Linked DNA regions of Homo sapiens. The protein of the gene in region 1 interacts with the protein of each later gene in a pairwise test. Each region holds a gene or a part of one and is shown in the gene's direction. Other genes may lie near its edges.

Region 1 (3,375 bases):
CCCTGGCAGTGTGGTCTGGGTTCTTCAGGGAGCATCAGTTTGGCTGGGAGACCAAACTGTTATCTCTGGGCCTTGTTCCCTTTGTGACCAGTCTCAGAGCCGGGCATCAGGACACCAGCTCCTCCCACTTCTGGCTCGGCCTGACCATCCTCAAGCAGCTGCGGCCTCCAGACCGCTTCCCTCACCCCAAGCAGAGGGGCTGTGGGGCCTGGGCATGCTGGTGGCCCTCTGGAGGTGCTGGCTGCTGGGCCAGGAACGTGGGAGCTGGTGCAAGGGGATAGTTGGGGTTTCTCATTCTTAACCCTTGATTGAATCTCCCTTCTCTCTCTTTCCCTCTCCCTTCCAAACCCCAGGCTTGTTGCAGGGACGTGTCTGCAGCGCCTGGGGACCGGAGCTGTCCTTCCCCTGTGCGGGCGGGCACCGCCTCCTCCTGGGTGTGAGGAGGAGGGGCCTGGCCAAACGGTTCTGGGCATGTGAGGTGGGGCGGTGGGCGGGGGGTGCCGGGCATGTGCAGAGACCTGGTGATGCCGGGAGGGATACAGTACTGTTTGGAAAGTTCTTTTAAGAGTGAAAAGCCCCTTTGGGTTCTTCTTAGACATCTCGCCCTACCCCAGATGGGCAGAGCAGAGTTCATTTCCAATGCCTCTTTTGTGTAGTGCCAAGCTCCTGTCCCCCAGGAGCTGACGGATGGCAAAAAGCTGTGGACACCCAGCTTTGCCTGGTCTTATTCTCTTCCCTCTCCCTCTCCAGATTGAGTTTGTGACGGGCACCAAAAAAGGCACCACGACCAACGCCACGTCCACCACCACTACCACTGCCAGCACAGCTGTTGCAGGTAGATTGCAGAGCTGCCCTGCCTCCTGCCACACACATGGAGCCAGGGTCTCCCTGGCTTGTTTGGGCGACAGACAGCACGTGGATCTGGGCCTGGGCTCAGCCTTGCTACTTTGAGAAGCACCTTTGGAGTCTGGGGTGGGCCACTTCGGGGTCTGCTCCCTAGACTCCCGCTGGCCTGCAGGGGGAAGGGAAAGAGGGCACCGCTCATTGGTGGATCGTGATCCTGATTTCTGCTTTATCTCCAGATGCTCAGAAGAGAAAGAGCAAGTGGGATTCGGCTATCCCAGTGACAACGATAGCCCAGCCCACCATCCTCACCACCACAGCCACCCTGCCAGCTGTTGTCACGGTCACCACCAGCGCCAGCGGCTCCAAGACCACCGTCATCTCTGCTGTGGGCACCATTGTGAAGAAGGCCAAGCAGTGACCTGAGGGGCCACCCTAGGACTTGAAAGGACCGTGCAGCCCAGTGACCACTGCCCAGTGGGAGGCGCCACTTTGTATATTTCAGGACTGGGACCTACTCCCCAGATGCCACCTGAGAGGAGCTTCTGTTTGGCATTCCAGATGGAAGGACAGGCAGCACGGGAGCCAGGCGCTGTGGACAGGGTCTGTCCACGCACCACCTGGGGTCTGCCGCCTATTAAAAGTGCCGTATTCTTACCTCTTGGCATCTCAGATGCACTGGCCTCTCCTGCATTCTGTTTGCAGGCAAATGCTTCAGCTCACATGTCCCCCAAGACTCAATAGTCTTGGTTGGGACTATTGCCTCAGGGTTGACAACAGGGTGATGGAGGCCTGGGACGCTGTTCAGAGGGGTGACCCAAGAAGTCACCGTTGTTATCCGTGTATGCCTCTGGGCATGGACAGGCGGGAGTCCCCGAGCCCCACGTATGCCCCATCTGCCGCCTTGATCCCAAAACCCAGCCAGTTCTCGGGTGATGGTGGAGCTGTGCTCCCTTGAGTGCACTTGAGCACTCCCCAGACCAGATCACTTTTTGGACACACCCAGGAAGGCTTTTGAAGTCAAGCCAGTTTCCAGAAGGGCTGGGGTGAGATCCTGACCTGTGCAGAGAGTGGGGAGGCGTCAGCGCCTGGCCAGGGCTGCCCCAGTCCTTTGGTGCCCGGTGAGCGCAGCCAGCAGGAGCTGAGCAGCGGGGGAGATGAATCACCTCCTGCCTTGGCGAGGCGGCAGCTCATTGTTTACAGGCAAGCCCTGCTCCTGGGAGGGCTCCTGCCACCCCACCCTTCCTCTGTGTGTTATCTCTGCCCCACAGCAGCCCCTGGGCAGCACCAGTGGCCACTGGGCTCCCCCCGGGGTTGAAACGGGTTTCCCAGACCAGGGGTTCAGAGGAGACTATTTACCCTTCATGATCTTTGGCGATTCTCCACTGGAGCGGAAGGGCTGTGTGTCAAAAGAAGGAAGCCAGGCTGTGAAGGGCCGTGTTGCTTTCAGTGGGTGGGCAGAGGTTTAGAAAGGTGGTTCTGAAATGGCACCTGGTACTCTTGTGGGACCTGGGGAATATAAGGAACTCTGTGCATGAGGTTTCAAAAATAAAAATTGAGTCCACTCTCCCCGTACACACACACTCGGGCACTTCAGGAGGTCAGTTCTCACCCCTTCCTCGATGGGGCTTTAAAGCTCTGGGGAGAAGAGCTGCTCCCCACTCATGCCCCAGAGGGACTGTGAAAAGGCTTCCTGTGACCTCCGATGGCGGCCCCTCATTGGCCAAGGGCACTGTGGATGTTTTGTGGGAGGCAGCATGGCACCGTGGAAAGGGCAGTAGACGTGGAGCCGGCACCTCTGGTCTGGATTCCACTTAAAACCAGTTGAGTGGTCTCAAGCCCTTAACCTCTGTAAGCCTGTTTCTTCTCTGAAATCACAGTAATAAAGCGTCGTAAGATGGTTGGGAAGAACCAGAGGTGACTTATGCAAAAGCTTTATAAACTGTAAAGTTCCTGCCAGTGTTTTTTGTTGGCTAAATCCAATTTTTTTTTGTTGTAGACCAAGGAGAGAAGCAAACTCCTGGCCTGTCCCCCGTCTCGTGCTCTGTCGGCGGGGTAGGGTTTGGCAGGTCTTTCCCCTCCCCGCTTTCCTCTGGGCAGCCCTGGCGCTGCCATTCATCTGTCCAGTTAAAGCAGTAATGACTGTCTCCTGCGGGGCCGCAGAGGTAGGGGGCCTGGAGAATGAACATAGGCTTAGAAGTTGGGCAACCCCAGGCCAAAACTGCTGCCCCACTTACCAGCCTCGTGAGTTGGGTCAAGGTTTTTAATCCTTCTAGACTTTCATTTACTCTTCTATAAAATGGTGCTTGCCCACCTTAGTCACATCAAGGATGGCCCAGAGGTGTGTGAACAGTTCCTGTTGTGGGTGGATGGCCCAGGCACTAGGGGCCAAAGTTGTTTCTAACCAGTGTGTGTCTGCTCGCCAGAGAACAGTGTCCAAACTGAACTCTGTCCACGGCTCCTACTGTCCCCCACCCACACACCTGCTACCTCTCCCGAGGGCTCTGATCTTGGGTGGGCATCAGGATTCAT
Region 2 (3,653 bases), on another chromosome or scaffold:
ATGATCAGAAATAGTCTATTAAGGCACTAATTGTTTATATGTAGTGGTAAGTGTAAAGCACTTAGAATATTGTCTATTCAGTGTCTAGTAGCTATTATTTGTTATCGTTATTATTTTTTTTTAGAGACCTATTTATTCATTATACATGAATAAAGTAGGCTTTAAGGTCTGGCCTGAGCAACATAAGGGCTCTGGGGCAAGTTAGTAGGCTACAAGATGATGAGTCACCTGAAGTGTAAACAGCCCAAAAGACACTGGCCAGTGCAGTTTTGTCTGCTTAGATTTTGCCTAAGACTGTATAGACAATTCATCCCTATTGGTTATGTTTGTAAATCACTTAAATAAGACTCAACACTCAGCTGCCTCTGTCACAGTCACTAATGTTGAATAGAGGGAGAAAATACGTGAGGAATTACTTTGTGACAGCTGTTATCACCAGATGGTCTTAGGCACTGTAATTTACAAAGCAGAACTCATTACCCATCTACCTACAATATGAAGTCCATTTCAGATTTGGCTCAAATACACCAGTAAACATTTTTGTTAAGAAATTTCAATGTATAACATCCTGTAAAATAGCTGAACATTTAAAAAAATATATCAAGTTTTCCAGAGTTTTTTTGGTTAAAATAGTTACAAGACATTCTATTTTACATAGTAACTGGGTCTCTGATTTGTTATTATTTGCAAATACAATAATTGGTTACATTTGCTTTGTGTGGGTAAACAGAAAATTCAAAAGTTTCTGTGGAGTGTTGAAGGTGGAAGGCAAATTGCAAGTGGGTTGAAGAATGAACAGGAAGGTAATGAAGTGGTGACATGGAGTATAGACAACTCTTTGAAGAATTTTATTCAGCTGTGAAGGAAAAGAGCAAGGGACAGCATCTAGGAGAGGGGACTTTAAATTTTTAAAAATATATTAATGCCTCAACTGTAAAAACTGCCTAACAGTAAGATATTAACACTACTTCAAAATTTATTCTGTAAGACACCTCAAATACCCACCAAGCCAATTAAAGATAAAAGGGAAGAGATCAAAAGTCTTTTACAGGTAGGAGATGGTAATTAGCAACATGGAATAATATTGTGATTGGTATTAAGTGTTAAATTAGATGTGAAGTTCTTAGCAATTGAGACAAAAAGGGACATATAATGGTTGCATGAGTCTCATTCTCTGTTAGAGGTAGCCCCATTTTTAAGAGACAAACTTTCCTGGTACATTTCAAGAGGTATTTATTATATTCAATCTTACATGTTGTAACTGAGTAACATTTTGTTACTCAGTGTGTGTGTGCACATGCACTTCAGAAACATTCTTTATCAAATGTATGGAACTATACAAATATTGGTTCTTGTTCTTTCATGAATGTAAATAATTTATATAGTGCTATTTCTTTTCTCTATTTACTTTAACGTTTTAGGGAATGTTCTTTTTGCGGCTTTTTTTTTTTTCTTTTTTGAGACGGAGTCTCGCTCTGTCACCCAGGCTGGAGTGCAGTGCTGTGATCTCGGCTCACTGCAAGCTCTGCCTCCTGGGCTCAAGCGATTCTCCTGCCTCAGCCTCCTGAGTAGCTGGGACTACAAGCACGCACCACAATGCCTGGGTAATTTTTGTACTTTTAGTAGAGATGGGGTTTCAGTATGTTGGTCAGGCTGGTCTTGAACTGACCTCGTGATCCGCCCGCCTCAGCCTCCCAAAGTGTTGGGATTACAGGTGTGAGCCACCGTGCCCAGCCTGTGGCTTTTTTTAAAAACCCAATTCATAGAAAACCCAGAGGTATAATCTTACTGTTGTAAATCAGTGAAGCTGCTTTAATTATAGAGAGAAGTTAATGTGTACATCATTGTTTTCCTACTTTCAGAGTTGTTACTAGGGAAAAGTTTAGGAAGAGCGAAAGTAAACATGCCCATTAGAGTCTTTCAGATACTACTAATTCATGATGAAAGCTTTGGCAAGAACTAGATTTAGATTTTTGTTAGTTAAAAGTCAGTATTCTTCACTGTTGATTTTCACGTGCTTCAGATACTAGCCGTTTATCAGATATTAGCTGTTTTAAAAATTAAAAGAATAGGCCGGGTGCAGTGGTACACGCCTGTAATCCCAGCACTTTGGGAGGCTGAGGTGGGCAGATCATGAAGTCAGGAACTCGAGACCATCCTGGATAACACGGTGAAATGCTGTCTCTACTAAAAATACAAAAAATTAGCCGGGCATGGTGGCGGGTGCCTGTAGTCCCAGCTACTCAGGAGGCTGAGGCAGGAGAATCGCTTGAACCCGGGAGGCGGAGCTTGCAGTGAGCTGAGATCGCACCACTGCCCTCCAGTCTGGGCAACAGAGTGAGACTCCTTTAAAAAAAAAAATTTAAATTAAAAGAATATGTATTGACACTGTAGATTTGTGACATATCAAGATTAGAAGTTGAATTAGTAGTGCCATAATAAAGTTACTAGATAAAGGGCTTATTTTTGTGATGCTAACTTGATATGTACCATATATGTTTTTCTCATACTGGTGCTTCTTAGGATATAATATTTTTAGTTAGGATATGATACCTGTGACTTTTAACATAGATTCAGATTAACATTGGTTTAAACAACATAAAAGTTGATTTTTCCCCCTCATATCGAAGTCTAGAAGCAGGCAGTCCAAGGCTGGTAAGGGAGCACTGCTCGGTGAGATTGCCTAGACCCAGGCTTCTTCTACCTTCTTCTTCCATCATCTTGGTGTTTGCCCTTTTTCCTGTAGTGCAAGGTGGCTCACGCTCACATCTGCATTCTAGCCAGCAGGAAGAGGAAAAGGCCAGTGATAAAATATGGCCCAAAAGTTGCACATATGACTTCCGCTCTCAACTGATTGGCCAGAATTTAATCACATGACCATGCGAGCAGCAAGATTGGTTGGGAAACATAATCTTTAATTCTGAATAACCATGTGTCCTTCCAAAATTCAGGGGCTCCACCAGTGTAGATAAAGAGTCTATTGGGGTCTATGAGTTCCCTAAAATGATTTGTAAAAGTTTATATAAGCATTTGTGAATGTGTACTTTTCTGATAACTTTCATTAGCTTCTGAAAACGGTTTGTGACCAAAGCTAAGTTAAGAATATTTAGATATTTGTAAAAGAATTTGAATGATTTATTTAATATAACGTTTATTTTATTAGCTCTATTCCAATTGATTACAACCTGTATCGAAAATTCTGGTCACTTCAGGATTACTTCAGGAACCCTGTGCAATGCTATGAGAAGATTTCATGGAAAACTTTTCTCAAGGTAAGTTGCCATTGACAGACTATCAGAAGCCCAGTATTTTATAGACAGTGATAGAGCTAAAACTTAATCTTGTCTAACATACTTTTCACTATGTAATTCTGCCTCTTACATTTTTATACCAATTTCATAACAAGTGAAATTATAAATTAATATTTAAACCACTAATATTGTGAAGTAGTATATAAGAATCGGATATTTAAAAGTTCGTCATTACAGCCTTGCTTTTTTTGAATATAATGAGTGTTGTTAACATAAATTGATATTTTGCAGAATATATTCTATCTTTGTACAAAATTATTTTAGCTATCTTGTTGAAACAGAAGTCCTCAAGTCATGGCTCTGGGCCAGATCTAACCTACTGCTTATAAACAAAGGTTTATT
Region 3 (3,653 bases), about 32 Mb from region 1:
CTGCACTCCAGCCTGGCTACAGAGTGAGACTCCGTCTCAAAAAAAAAATTTTTATTCTAAAGGTAATACAGCTTTGAAGCTTCCTTTTTCATATAATTCTTTGTGCAGTAAATATTAGCTACTAGATATAGTCATAACAAATACTTATTAATTTAATTTGTGTTTGGCAACTGGGGATACGATTTGAATTAAACAGATATGATCCCTGCTTTTATGCGCTACAACTTAGTCGGGGATATGGATATTAATTAAATAATCACCAAATAATTAAATTATGATCAGTGCCATGTGAAGAAGTACAGGCAGTGTAATTGACTGTGGTGGGTCACTTCCCTGGGGAAATCGAGACCCAAAGGATAAATTGGACTCAGTCTGTCAAGTGGAGATGGGATGGAGGTTGGGGAGTATGTTCCAGCCTGAGGAGTAGCCCGTGTTGGGTTTGTGGGGTGGGAAAGAAGGAACTGAAAGAAGGCTTGTGTGGATGGAATAGAGAGAGCAGTGGGCAGTGGTAGGGGATGAGATAAGAACATCAGGCCAGGGCTTTGTAGGTGGCATTAGGAAGCTGGGCTCAATTCTAATAGCACTGGGAGATGTTGAAAAGTTCTTTTGTTGTTGTTGTTTTTGTTTCTGAGACAGAGTTTTGCTCTTGTTGCCTAGGCTGGAGTGCAACACCATGATCTTGACTCACTGCAACCTCCACCTCCCTGGTTCAAGTGATTCTCCTGCCTCAGACTCCCAGGTAGCTGGGATTACAGGCATGCACCACCACGCCTAGCTAATTTTTTGTATTTTTAGTAGAGACGAGGTTCCTCCATGTTGGTCAGGCTGGTCTCGAACTCGCGACCTCAGGTGATCCCCCCCCCATCTCAGCCTCCCAAAGTGCCGGGATTACAAGTGTGAGCCACCGTGCCCAGCCAGATGTTGAAAGTTTGCAGCTGGCACATGGCATGACCAGAGTTGCATTTCCAAAGGATGATTGAGGGTGCCCTGCAGAATGAGTTGGATGGGGCACATGTGATGATTTAGAAAGCTTTTATGAAGAGAGAGAATGGTGGCTTGAACATGGAGGTAGCAAAGAGGAGGGATGTACTTGAGAAAAGTAATTTGTTGAATGTGGGGCAACAGGAATGGTCAAAGATGACTTCCAGGTTTCTGGTATGAGCACTAGGATGAATGATGGGAACACTGGAGGAGAAATGGGTTTGTGGGGAAAGATGGTCAAATTCCGTTTTGGACTTGTGTCCGAGGCAACTAGAGGACATCTTAGGTTGAGGTATCCAGTGTAGAATTGAGTATAAGAGCTCAGAAGAGAGGTCTGGGCTGGAGACAGAAGTTTGGGAATTGTGTTAATTTAGATATCAGTTTGGCTGCATGTAATAGAGATTCAAATATTAGATTAGGTTCGGCATGATGGCTCACGCCTGTAATCCCAACACTTTGGGAGGCCGAGGCAGGAGAATTGCTTGAGGCCAGGAGTTCAAGACCAGTCTGGGCAACATAGTAAGACCTTATCTGTATTTTATTTTATTTTGTTTTGTTTTGTTATTTTAGTTTAGTTTAGTTTAGTTTTTGAGATGGAGTCTCACTATGTTGCCCCAGCTGGAGTGCAGTGGTGCAGTCTTGGCTCACTGCAACCTCTGCCTCCTGGGTTCAAGCGATTCTCCTGCCTCAGCCTCAAGTAGCTGGGACTACAGGTGACCGCCACCACGCACGAGTAATTATTTTGCATTTTTGGTAGAGACAGCGTTTCACCATGTTGGTCAGGCTGGTCTCGAACTTCTGACCTCAAATGATCTTGCCCACCTTGGCCTCCCAAAGTGCTGGGATTACTGGTGAGCCACCGTGCCTAGCCCTTGTCTCTATTTTAAAATTAAATTTTTAAAAACGACAAAAATAAAAACCAAAATATTAGATTTACAGTAGAAGGTTGGACATATTCGTTCATTGTTTAACAATATCATCTTCCATTTCCTCAGAATAAACCCATTCATTCCCTTTTACCCTTTAGTGAAATGTTCTCCATGACCCTCCTTTGGCCTCTGCCTAAGCTCACTTATTTGGTTAGTAGGCATAAGTATTTTTTCGTAGCCAGCTTTTGGCATCAAATTTGTAAAATGTTTGCATATGCTAGAGAGCCACTAAAATTCTGCTCATTTTTTTTTGCTCCTCAAGCCACAATTCCAAGGTGAATCTTGAAAATATAAGCTAGGTCTGGGCAAGGTGGCTCACACCTGTAATCCCAGCACTTTGGGAGGCTGAGGCAGACAGATCACTTGAGTTGGGGAATTTGAAACCAAGCTGGGCAATGTGGTGAAACCCTGTCTCTAAAAAAATACAAAAATTAGTCCAGGCATGGTGGCTCATGCCTGTAATCCCAGCAGTTTGGGAGGCTGAGGCGGGTGGATCACCTGAGGTCAGGAGTTTGAGACCAGCCTAGCCAACATAGTGAAACCCCATCTGTGCTAAAAACAGAAAAATTAACAGATGTGGTGGCACGCACCTGTAATCCCAGCTGCTAGGGAGGCTGAGGCAAGAGAATCACTTGAACCTGGGAGGCGGAGGTTGCAGTGAGCCGAGATCACGCCATTGCACTCCAGCCTGGACAACAATTGCGAAACTCCATCTAAAAAAAAAAAAAAAAAGTTTAGCCGTGTGTAATCACGTGCACCTGTATTCCCAGCTACTCAGGAGGCTAACGTGGGAGGATTGCTTGAGCCCAGGAGGTGGAGGTTGCTGAGCTGAGATCTCGCCACTGCACTCCAGCCTGCTGGGCGTCTGAGCCAGACCCTGTCTCAGAAAAAGAAAAAAATTAATCTGAGAGAAACCAGGCACAACAGACCACATATTGTATGAAGTATCCAGAATAGAACCCGTAGACATAGAAAGTAGACTAATGGTTGCCAAGGGAAAGGAAAAGGGAGGAATGGGGAGTAACTGCTAATGGGTACAGGGTTTCTTTCTGATATGATGAAAATACTCTAAATAGTGGGGATAGTTGCACAACTTAATGAATATACAGTAAAACACTGAGTTAAACACTTAAAAAGAGTAACACGGAGACCTGGCTTGGTGGCTCATACCTGTAATCCCAGCACTTTGGGAGGCCAAGGAGAGAGGATTCCTTGAACCCAGGAATTTGAGGCTGCAGTGAGCCGTGATTGCGTCACTGCACTCCAGCCTGGGAAACAGAGCAAGACCCTGTCTCAAAAAAATAAAATAAAATAAAAAAAGTGTAACATGGTTTGTGAATTACATCTCGATATAGCAGTTATTTAAAAAGGGGAGAGTGCTGCGCATGGTGGCCATACCTGTAATTCCATTACTTTGGGAGGGTGAGATGGGTGGATTGCTTTAGCCCAGGAGTTCGAGACCAGCCTGGCAACATAGAGTGACCTCTTCTCGCTTGAGCCCAGAAGGTCGGGGCTGCAGTGAGTCAGGATTGCACCACTGCACTCCCACTTGGATGACAGAGCAAGACCCTACCTAAAAAAAAATAATTCCAGTGTCAAGCAGTCAGGTCTTCACTTCTCTCAACTAACCTTTTTTCTGACATCACAGGTGTGTAGCACCACTTGTTACAGTCTCTTTCCCATTCCCTGCTGCCCCTTCTATATTCTTTTCTTCACATTAATTTGTTTCTTTGAGTACTTTTG

What was found.
Region 2: the proteins of SAP30BP (region 1) and THOC1 interact in a two-hybrid assay, tested with the Homo sapiens proteins (one large-scale study listed by BioGRID and IntAct).
Region 3: the proteins of SAP30BP (region 1) and DHX8 interact in a two-hybrid assay, tested with the Homo sapiens proteins (one large-scale study listed by BioGRID and IntAct).

The regions. Positions count from the first base shown.
Region 1 is NC_000017.11:75,705,258-75,708,632, forward strand, and holds the end of SAP30BP (SAP30-binding protein), read left to right. Parts: intron 1-353; coding exon of another isoform or gene 354-434; intron 435-750; coding exon 751-835; intron 836-1,082; coding exon 1,083-1,264; 3' UTR 1,265-2,802; downstream 2,803-3,375. UniProt on the Homo sapiens protein: Plays a role in transcriptional repression by promoting histone deacetylase activity, leading to deacetylation of histone H3.
Region 2 is NC_000018.10:247,468-251,120, reverse strand, and holds part of THOC1 (THO complex subunit 1), read left to right. Parts: intron 1-3,163; coding exon 3,164-3,272; intron 3,273-3,653. UniProt on the Homo sapiens protein: Component of the THO subcomplex of the TREX complex which is thought to couple mRNA transcription, processing and nuclear export, and which specifically associates with spliced mRNA and not with unspliced pre-mRNA.
Region 3 is NC_000017.11:43,500,872-43,504,524, forward strand, and holds part of DHX8 (ATP-dependent RNA helicase DHX8), read left to right. Parts: intron 1-3,653.